Linked DNA regions of Homo sapiens: region 1 is linked to region 2. Evidence: fine-mapped expression QTL. Tissue or cell type: whole blood. Region 2 holds a variant in brackets; the other region holds the start of a gene. All regions are shown on one strand. Distances are from middle to middle. Region 1 holds the start of FAM13A (family with sequence similarity 13 member A). Region 2 has its middle 8.2 kb from the start of TIGD2.

What was found.
Region 1: it holds the start of FAM13A, and the variant in region 2 is fine-mapped to the expression of FAM13A in whole blood (INTERVAL, PIP above 0.99).

Annotation. Positions count from the first base shown.
Region 1 is chr4:89,054,454-89,059,838 of GRCh38, forward strand. FAM13A (family with sequence similarity 13 member A) reads right to left here and starts at 2,732. Exons shown (of 24, transcript NM_014883.4): 1 at 2,485-2,732. The coding sequence starts at 2,511. RefSeq lists an enhancer at 2,033-2,595.
Region 2 is chr4:89,100,690-89,106,074 of GRCh38, forward strand. No RefSeq gene overlaps it. Among named protein-coding and RNA genes, the nearest start is that of TIGD2, 8.2 kb to the right of the region's middle. RefSeq lists enhancers at 583-822, 933-1,082. The variant CTTT/C (reference allele first, on the strand shown) is at 2,537.

The DNA.
Region 1 (5,385 bases), 46 kb before region 2:
CCAAAATATGGTGCTTTGGCATGCTGGGTATTTTTAATTAAAATGTCTCAGAAATAAGCCTCAGAACCAAGGTCTCTCTCTGCCTTTCCACTCTCCTGCCCTCCCTCAGTCTCTCTTTTTCTTTCCTAAAGCACTGAGAGTGACTCTCTCTGGAATTTCCTTATCTGATTAAGGAAGCTTCTTTCCAAAAGAAATGCAATTGTCTTAAGATCTACTTCCTGAGAATCTCATCAAATAACCATGAAAAATTAACCATCAGAAAAGAGACTAAAAGCTGTCACCATATCCACACTGACTTTTCATCTATTCTTCTGAGGACAGCTCCAAGAGATTGGCTGGGAGACTTTATCTGCATAAAAACACAACCTTCATTCCACCCCTCACCTTTCCACCACCTCACCATAGCTCAGGGAAACGCTGTCCCAGGCCATGCTCTTTGAACCCATTCATTCACTTTAAAAATTATTTACTACCTCTCTAAAATTACCTGCAGCTCCCTACTTCTCTCTTCCCCAAAAAGAAGGCATTTAAGCTTCAACCACCTGGCCCTTCTTTGAATCTCATATTTGAGGGGCTCTCATATCCATATACATATTAATAAATTTGTAACTCTTTTTCTCCTATTAATCTATTGCCAATTGTTTCAATAAAATTGCAGAAAGGGCAGAGGAAAAGCTTTCTCTTCACTCCTACACAAAGTAAAAAGTAGTGTATCAGCTCATTGAATGTATTAATGTGTGACTTAGTTCTCCCTTTTTTGTCACGATGTTTAAAATTTTTTTTGTTGTTCTCCAAAAGCTATCTTTTTCCAGATATGCTATGGTACAACTGTTGAAAATGTATTTCCTCCTACAGTAAAACCAAGACAGCACAATCAAAGGCCAACCTTAAGGAGAAGGGTAGAAATGATTGAGAATTACTCATCTACCAGAGTGAATAATCTCTTACACTGTGTGATTTTTATGTCAACTTTAACTGAAATTTTATACATGCTTTGGATATAAATTAAGGGAAAATATAAAGTTTTATACATGAGTCAGTGTGCATTCCAGTCAAGGTAGAGATCAATATATTGCAGGTCAAGGGAAAGAAGTAAAGATCTAATCAGACAATCAGAGATGACTACCAATCTTCATGACCTATCTGCTGCCTCATTCTACACATTTTCAGTTCTGTATTGTTTCTTTTATAAAGCTAGAAAAATAGAAGGGCCACCTCTGCAGTAAAGTAAAAGTCAGTATTTTACACATAGATAAATCAGATTTTGAAGGAAACTCTTTGGGGTGATAAAAAAAGAATAACCACATGGATACCTGGATGCTACTAAGCCTCAGAGTTAAAAGGAAGACAGAGTGACATACATGGTGCTGAAAAGTTTTGAGCCTGGAAACAAGGTCATCCTGCAGTTTCACTAAGAAAACTTAATCTATAGGGCTGGTCTACCATTTGGTGACCATTTGGTGACCATTTGGTGTCTGTGTGTCAAAAATTGCTCAGATATTTCTAAACACTTCAGAATGCCATCAGAAGCTACAGCAAATTGCAGCTCTTTCTGAAACACACACAAAAAAAGAGGATCTGGCCTGAGTGTGATTTTTTAAGTGAGCAGTTAAGGTGATAATAAGGAAGAAGATATTTCTCATTTAATACATTCTAGAAAATAAAATGTCCCTATGGAATACAATAGCAACTTGAAACATAAATATGTGTAATTCTCATACAGATATATGCATTTTCTATATAGTACAATCAAAATTTAAATTACAGCATTCTGCAAATTATATAATTGACAATTTTTGATTATTACAAAAGGTTTTGTACAAGCACCAGCAGAATAATTTAGAAATTCATAAATTCTAAAAATTCTAAAACTCCAGAAATATGCACATTTTCCCAAGGATTTTATTTCAGTGTTATTTATTAATGCTACTGTGTTATAACAACCATTCATTTCTACAGTTTAAGGATACACAAACATTTATCAACTGAGCTTCTCCACCATCACTTTCAGCAATCATGCTGAAACAGAAACTCCAGAATTACTAAACGAAAATAGAAATATAAAACAGAAAAATGTCACACACATACTCAAAAGTAATAAATTAATGGTTACTTCAATTCCTCCTCAAGCTAGCCACAAGATTTCTCTAATAGCTATAATGAAGCATTCATGTTTAACTATTCAGGGACAAGAAAGTCTAAAATGCTTGAAAGTGCTCTACTTTAAATCAAGTTGACTTAACGGAATAAATCAGCATGCATCTTTCACCTTTTTTGGAAACTAAAGTGCACAAATATGCTGAATGCCATCCCAAATCCTGCCTAATACCCATTTAAGTAGATAGGAATTTAAGTAACAAATCTTTCCCCACCTCCTGGGAAGGAAAAATAAGTTACACAAACATCTCATCAAAACAAGGAAGGCAAGGCCCTCTCCTAAAAACTGGCAGTAAACACAGAAGACAGAAGAAGGCCTATACTTACACAGATGGCTAGAGCTCCTGCCCCCATTCTCTCAGAAAGCGTCTGGAAGAACTGAGGAAGACCAGACGAAAATATTAAAACGACAGCAAAATACTAAAATTCCATTCAGCACATATTCTTTGATGTGAAAAACAGCTCCCAATGCAAAGGCCCCAAGGTAAGCGAAGAGCAGCTTCTAACATTTTAGGAAGAGTGGTTTTGCTTCTCTTTCCGCTGAACCCACATGGCTGGAAGGACTGCCTGGAGTTGAAATTTGATCCACAGCCTCAGTGCTGGCAAGTAGAGGGAGTCACGTGACACGGGTCTTAAGTCGCTGACATCTTTTTTTCAAACCTGACTCCCTAGATCCTACACACAGGCTTCTTTGACTCCGAAAACTGCCAGTCACCTGGTGGCTTTCATTAATAGAACCAACAGTGCATAAAGTGAAAACACAGACTTGCTTCCCAGATTCCACACAGCTCTAAGCAAAATGTACGTATTCAGACTCAGGTTTAAAACTGCAGGCACATTATTCATTTTTTCTGAGGCAGTTTTCTCTTCTACTCTTCCTTAGAAACCAGCTAAATTCTACCAAAATTTTCTTCCTTCCATGCTACCCCATCAGAATTGTTTTAAATGAAAATGCTCTATTTTATGTAGCCGTTACTACTTCTAATTATGTATGAGTTGTCTTATAAAAATATACTGATGATAAACATAAACAACATACTTCTAGACAACCATAATTCTACATATGTGATTTGCAGTCTGAAAAATTAGCTAACTGACTTTTCAATAACTTTCTCTTCCACATGCTGTCACTAGAAAATTTGATAGATTTTAAAATTTACAAATATTTGAACTAATAGCTAAAATAGCCACTTCAGGTAAGCCAAAAGGAAACTATCCTATTTTTATTTTTGTTACCATTTTTTCTGTCAATTTGTTTTTCTTTTTTCTTTTGCTGTACCTATTGACCCATCCTCTAAGTTCTCTCCCCTCACCCCCAACCTCCCAACAGGCCCTGATGTGTGTTGTTTCCCCTTTGTGTCCATGTGTTCTCAATGTTCAACTCCCACTTATGAGTGAGAACATGTGGTGTCTGGTTTTCTGTTCCTGTGGTAGTTTGCTGAGGATGACGGCTTCTAGCTTCATACATGTCCATGCAAAAGACATGATCTTGTTCCTTATTATGGCTGCATAGTATTCCATGGTGTATATGTACCACATTTTCTTTATCCAGTCTATCATTGATGGGCATTTGAGTGGGTTCCATGTCTTTGCTATTGTAAACAGTGCTGCGATAAACATATGTGTGTATGTGTCTTTATAGCAGAATGATTTATACTCCTTTGGGTATATACCCAGTAATGGGACTGCTGGGTCAAATGGTATTTCTGGTTCTAGATCCTTGAGGAATCTCCATACTGTCTTCCACAATGGTTGAACTAATTACATTCCCACGGACAGTGTAAAAGCGTTCCTATTTCTCCACATCCTCTCTAGCATCTGTTGTTTCCTGACTTCTCAATAATTGCCATTCTAACTGGCTCGAGATAGTATCTCATTGTGGTTTTGATTTGCATTTCTCTGATGATCAGTGATGGTGAGCTTTTCTTCATAGGTTTGTTGGCTACATAAATGTCTTCTTTTGAGAAGTGTCTGTTCATATCCTTTGCCCACTTTTTGATGGGGTAGTTTGTCTTTTTCCTGTAAATTTGTTTAAGTTCCTTATGGATTCTGGATATGAGACCTTTGTCAGATGCATAGTTTGCAAATATTTTCTCCCATTCTGTAGGCTGCTTGTTCACTCTGATGATAGTTTCTTTTGCTGTGCAAAAGCTCTTTAGTTTAATTAGATCCCATTTGTCAATTTTGGCTTCTGTTGCCATTGCTTTTGGCATTTTTGTCTCTGCCCATGCCTATGCCCTGAATGGTATTGCCTAGGTTTTCTTCTAGGGTTTTTATAGTTTTGGGTTTTACATTTAAGTCTTTAATCCATCTTGAGATAATTTTTGTATAAGGTCTAAGGAAGGGGTCCAGTTTCAGTTTTTTGCATATAACTAGCCAGTTTTCCCAGGACCATTTACTGAATGGGAGATCATTTTCCCATTGCTTGTTTTTTGTCAGATTTGACGAAGATTAGATTGTTGTAGACATGTGGTGTTATTTCTGAGGTCTCCGTTCTGCTCCATTGGTCTGTATGTCTGTTTTGGTACCAGTACTGTGCTGTTTTGGTTACTGTAGCCTTGTAGTATAGTTTGAAGTCAGGTAGCATGATGCCTCCTGCTTTGTTCTTTTTGCTTAGGATTGTCTTGTCTATATGGGGTCTTCTTTGATTCTGGATGAAATTTAAAATAGTTTTTCTAATTCTGTGAAGAATGTCAATGGTAGTTTGATGGGAATAGCATTGAATCTATAGATTACTTTGGGCAGTAGGGCCATTTTCATGATCATGATTCTTCCTATCCACGAGGATAGAATGTTTTTCCATTTGTTTGTGTTCTCTCTTATATCCTTGAGCAGTGGTTTGTAGTTCTCCTTGAAGAGGTCCTTCACATCCCTTGATAGCTGTATACCTATGTATTTTATTCTCTTTGTAGCGATTGTGAATGGGAGTTCATTCATGATTTGCCTCTCTGCTTGCCTATTGTTGGTGTAAATGAATGCTTGTGATTTTTATACATTGATTTTGTATCCTGAGACCTTGCTGAAGTTCCTTATCAGTTCAAGAAGTTTTGGGGCTGAGATGATGGGGCTTCCTAAATATAAAATCAAGTCGTCTGCAAACAGAGATAACTTGATTTCTTCTCTTCCTATTTGAATACCCTTTATTTCTTTCTCTTGTTTGATTGCCTTGGCCAGAACTTCCAATACTATGTTGAATACAAGTGGTGAGAGAGGGCATCCTTGTCTTGT
Region 2 (5,385 bases):
AAGAAAAACTCCCTTCCAAAAGAATATGTTATAAGGGAGGAATTTTATATTCAAACAGTTGTTAACCATAAAAGGTTTTCAAACTTTGGTGTAATAGAATCACACGGGATGATCACTGAAAATAAAGATTCCTGGGCTTCATCCCCAGTGTGAGCCCAGGAAATCTATATATTGGACTCCAGGTGATTCCAACCCACAGGGTTTGAAGAGCAACCTTGATAAATGTGGCTTTGGGGACAAAGTAGGACTTGGAAGGACGTACGGATGTACAGAGGAAGAAGAAAGCTTCCCAGACTAAAGGGGAAGCATGAAAAGCTCAAAATTATGAAGCTGCATGTGCTGAGGAGAGGGAGAATGAGTGGTGTGACGCACAATGGGCTCTCAGTTAACCTGACCTTACCAACCTGGGACAGAATTGAGGGCTCCTCTAAAGAATGTTGGAAATTGGGCAGGCTTGGAAAGGTAAGCAGGGTATATAATTTTCATTCACATTTCCTACTCATATTTCTCATACCAATCAGCCAATTCACTGGTTTCTTCAATTTACATCTAAGTGATTTTCAGGAAACGAGTCTAACTTTTCTTTAAGCATCGCCACCAATAATTTTCACTTCTTTTTTAAACCCCACTAAATCTTTTCTACCCTCCTGGGAACTCATTCTCTTACCTTTGCCTATGCTCCCAGCCATCTGAAAACCTACCATCCACCAGCCAACCAAGAAACAAAGAAAACAAAACAAAGTTTAAAAGTTCCCCACTGGGCATCTACATGACTCAAGAGTCTCAGAACTCACTATCTTTCAGTATTGTAACTTACCAACTTCTTAAAAATGATCTGGGATTTTCCAGTGAGTAATCAGAACTTTCACTTGTGTCTAGACACTTTCAAGTGGAGAAGTGTCCCTACCTTTATGCAAAAGGATATCTTTTTCTATTTATATTTTTTATATATATTTTCTAATTAAGGTTCGTCTATAATATGAAGTAAAATAATGTTTGAGCTGAAAGAGATGTCAAAGGAAAAGCTTTCATTTTACTGATGAGAACCGTTTCACATCCTGTTTTCCCTAACATGGGGTTCCCCAACACCCAGGCTACAGACCAGTGTGGTCCGGTTGGTGGCCTGTCAGGAACTGGGCCGCACAGCAGGAGGTGAGTGGCAGATGGGCAAGTATTATGGCCTGAGCTCCACCTCCTTTCATATGAGCAGCAGCATTAGATTCTCACAGAAGCTCGAACCCTATTGTGAACTGCGCATGCGAGGGATCTAGTTGTATGCTCCTTACGAGAATCTAATGCCTGATGATCTAAGGTGGAACAGTTTCATCTTGAAAGCATCCGCCACCTCCTCCATTGTGGAAAGTTTGTCCTCCATGAAACCAGTCCTTGGTGCCAAAAAGGTTGGGGACCACTGCCCTAACAGACCCATATCCCCCTGCATACTTCAAAAGAGGAATAAATTATATTTTATCTGGAAAATTCCCCTCAATATTTTATGTCCCTTAAGGTAGGTGACAGTAAATGGTTTTTGTGCAAACCACTGATTTATTATTGGCACTAAATAATTAAGTTACTAAAGGCAAATACTATTCTATATTAAATAAGTTTATTACACATAGAATAATAGCATTGTGATAAAAAAAAATTCATGTTTTTTTTTTTTTTTTTTTTTTTGAGGCAGGGTGTCACTTTGTCACCCAGCCTGGAATATGGTGGCATGAACACGGCTCACTGCAGCCTAGACTTCCTGGGCTCAAGCAATCCTCCCACCTCAGCACCCCCCAGCAGCTCGACTACAAGCATGTACTACCACACCTGGCTAATTTTTGTATTTTTTGTAGAGGCGGGGCTTCACCTCTTGTTGCCCAGACCAGTCTGATATTCCTGAGCTCAAGTGATCTGCCCGCCTTGGCCTCCCAAAGTGCTGGGATTACAGGCATGAGCCACCACGTCTGGCCCATGTCCTCATCTTAAGCTTATTAGGTATCATAAAACAAAAATCTTCAAGTGAATGAGAATCAATTATAAAGTAAATGGAAACCAAAAACAAAAAAGAGTCCCTTAAAAACTAAGAATGTAAATCTACCTAGAGATATCCTATTCTATAACAAAGCTATCTTGCATAAGGAATACTACTAATAATTCAAAGTCCATGTAAGGTATTTGTATGTCTGTATTATCTCAGCAGAGCAGAAAATTTAGGGCTTGTAATGATAAGAAACAATCTAATTTCAGGTGATTTGGGATAGTTTTCAGAAAACTCTCATTCCAATGAAGCAAATGAACACTATTGCAGACTTGCAGTGCTTTCATGAGTAGAAAGCCATTTTTATTAGTTCATGTTAAATATTCTATTTTAATAAATAACTTTAATTTTGCAAGAATAAATAATTACAGTATACTTTTCTTCTTTTCATGTCTTTGACATAAATACTTCTATTGTGATAGCATGGGCAGAGCATGGAGCTTTAAACCCAAATGTAACTGGGCTCAAATCCCTGTTCTGCTACCCACATTTGAGCCTTTCTTTTCTTTT[CTTT/C]TTTTTTTTTTTTTTTTGAGATAGAGTCTCACTCTATTGCCCAGGCTAGAGAGCAGTGCAGGAGCTCGGCTCCCGGGTCCAAGCAATTCTCCTGCCTCAGCCTCCTGAGTAGCTGAGATTACAGGCACACGCCACCACTCCCAGCTGATTTTTTGTATTTTAGTAAAGACGGGATTTCACCGTGTTGCCCATGCTGGTCGCAAACTCCTAAGCTCAGGCAATCTGACTGCCTTGGCCTCCCAAAGTGCTGGGATTACAGGTGTGAGCCACTGCACCCAGCCTAGCCTTTACTTTCTTGTACATAAAACATAGGTAACATCTACCTCATAGTACTGTTACAAGGATTAAGAGAGTTGCACATATGTAGAAAAAAGAGACATATGGGTGACAGAACTTCCCCAATGACTGAAATGACTTTTCATTAGAGATAAACCACAGTGAATGGTAAGTGAAGTTAGAAAAGAGATAAAAGAATACAAAATTGCTCTGCATAATGAAGTGAAAAAAATCTTGAGCGTTCACAAGCAGGTGAGAAGGAAAAAAAGAGAAGAGAGGGGACCCTGAGATAGAAAAATGTTGGGGGAAGAAAGAAAAGAATGGCATAGCAAGATGGAAGGATGCTGTGACCCAAAGAGAAGAACTGACAATAGGAAGTTCCCTGTGGCCAACTGGGCTCTTAATAAAACAATAATGCTGTGGTATAATATGAAATATATTTGGTTTTTTCCCCAGATCCTGCCACAGAGCTCCTAAAACCCTTGGGATTTCCTGAATGTTAGGAGTGTCTTTTGACATTTATACCAACCCTCTTTTGATGGTACCTGAGTTTATGCTAATACAGTGACTTAGGGTGAGGCCCCTAGATAACCTCAGCATGAGGCTGGTCAGCAGAAAGACCAAATGATTAGAAGGCTGGAACTTTCAGCCCCACTCACTGGCATCTGGGAAGGGGACTGGGCTGGAGATGAAGCTCTATAAAAACACTTGAACAACAAATCTGATGAGCTTCCAGGTTGAGTACATCCAGTGCTGAGAAGGTGGCAAGCCCAGAGACGGCATGGAAGCTCCGTGCCTCCCACCCTGCCATATCTTGCCCCTATACATCTTTTCCATTTGGCTGGTCCTGAGTTTTATCCCTTATAATAAACAAGCAAATGCAAGAAAATGTTTCCTTGAGTTCAGTGAGGAGCTGCCCTAGCAAATTAATGGAACACAAGGAGGGGCACCATGGGAATCGCAACTTACAGCTAGTCCTTCACAAGTATAGGTGGCAACTGTAAGGGAAGTGGCTGCACTGGAGTCAAGGGTAGGCTGAGGTAAACATTTGGTGCTGCATGACACAGTGGGACTGGAGCACAGGCACACAATCCCGTGCAGTATATAATCACAGTTATGTAACCATGTTATGGGTGGGCTCATCACCTGGCGTTGAGCCACCATTTTCTGTAATATAACCGCACTGCTAACTCTGTAAGAGAGAGCTGGGCTACCTTGCAGGTGGCCAGGAGGGGAGCCAGGAAGTGGCAAGTGCACTGGGGAGCACAGCTACAGGCATGTGGGTGGCAGGAGCTGCAAAGCCAGCGCTGAGAAGGGCTATGGCACAGCTACAGGTATGGGGGTGGCTGAGACAAAGGCTGATAGAGAGAGAGAATAAAGCCATATCCCAACTGCCTACAGTGCCCCGAGTGTTTTTCCAACTACCCGCCACCCATCCATCAACTCCCCTCAGACCCCAGCTCAGGCTGGAACCTGACAATTGGTGTAGTCAGCAGGATTCCGAGGTGAGTGTGTCCTCAGCCCCCAGTGATCCTGGGTTGGCTATGTGGCTGTGCTGCTAGGATGGGCTCCAGTAGAAACATGGGCAGCAGTGGACGGGTCCCCTGTGAGCACAGAGAAGGTACTGAAACACCTGGAAGCACACAGCACCGAGAAGGAGCATGCCTTTGCCAGCAGAGTCAGATGGGCATTTTTGACTGCACTATGGTCAGTGCATGCCCACTCCCTGCAGGATGCAGCACAGGTAAGGGACCTTCAGATGCAAGCCAAGCGCCTGGAGGGCCAGATACACAGTTTGGAATAAGAAGTGGGAACTGCCATAAGTGACAGCTTGAGCCCACCCTCCCAGCTGGACATTCCCGCTTGGTCTGATACTGAGGGGGAAGAACCCCTACTGCGGGCTAACCCTATGGTCCACCAGAAAATAGAGCATGAATAGCCACTTGGGCCCAAAAAGCAGACCCAGGAATCCCCTACCATGGTGGAGCATGCTTCATATAGTGCCTATACCCCCAGTGATTTGTGGGAGTTAGGCAAACAGTGTTGGCACCATCTGGGGGAGCCCCTACCGACCTGGGAAGTGCTGGTAACTTCGTGGAGGCAATTGACCCCAAAGCAGCAATTCCGGAAATGCCCACCCAGATAGATGCTCTGGCTCAAGGACTACTTACAGACAGGCAGAGGTATAGAGCCTTTTGTGTTTGATTAGGGAGCTGGCTGAGATACCCGGCTTGGGGGGACACCAGATGACCAGAGGCCACATGTGGAATTAGCAATCCACTGGTCCCCCACCAATGTATAGCAGGTGCTGGTGCTGGTAGACATTGGCACAGATTGTAGTCTTGTCTATGGGAGCCCGGATAAGTTTCCGGGTAAAGCTGCATACATAAATGGCTATGGAGGCTAGTCAGTGAAAGTGAAACCTGTACCTTTGCACCTTGGTATTGGCCACTTGGCTCCCTGTTTATACTGTGTACGTCTCTCCCATACCTGAATATATTCTGGGGGTGGATATTTTACACTGCTTGGCAGCTGTGCCATCTATCACGGATTTGATGGACCACTTGACG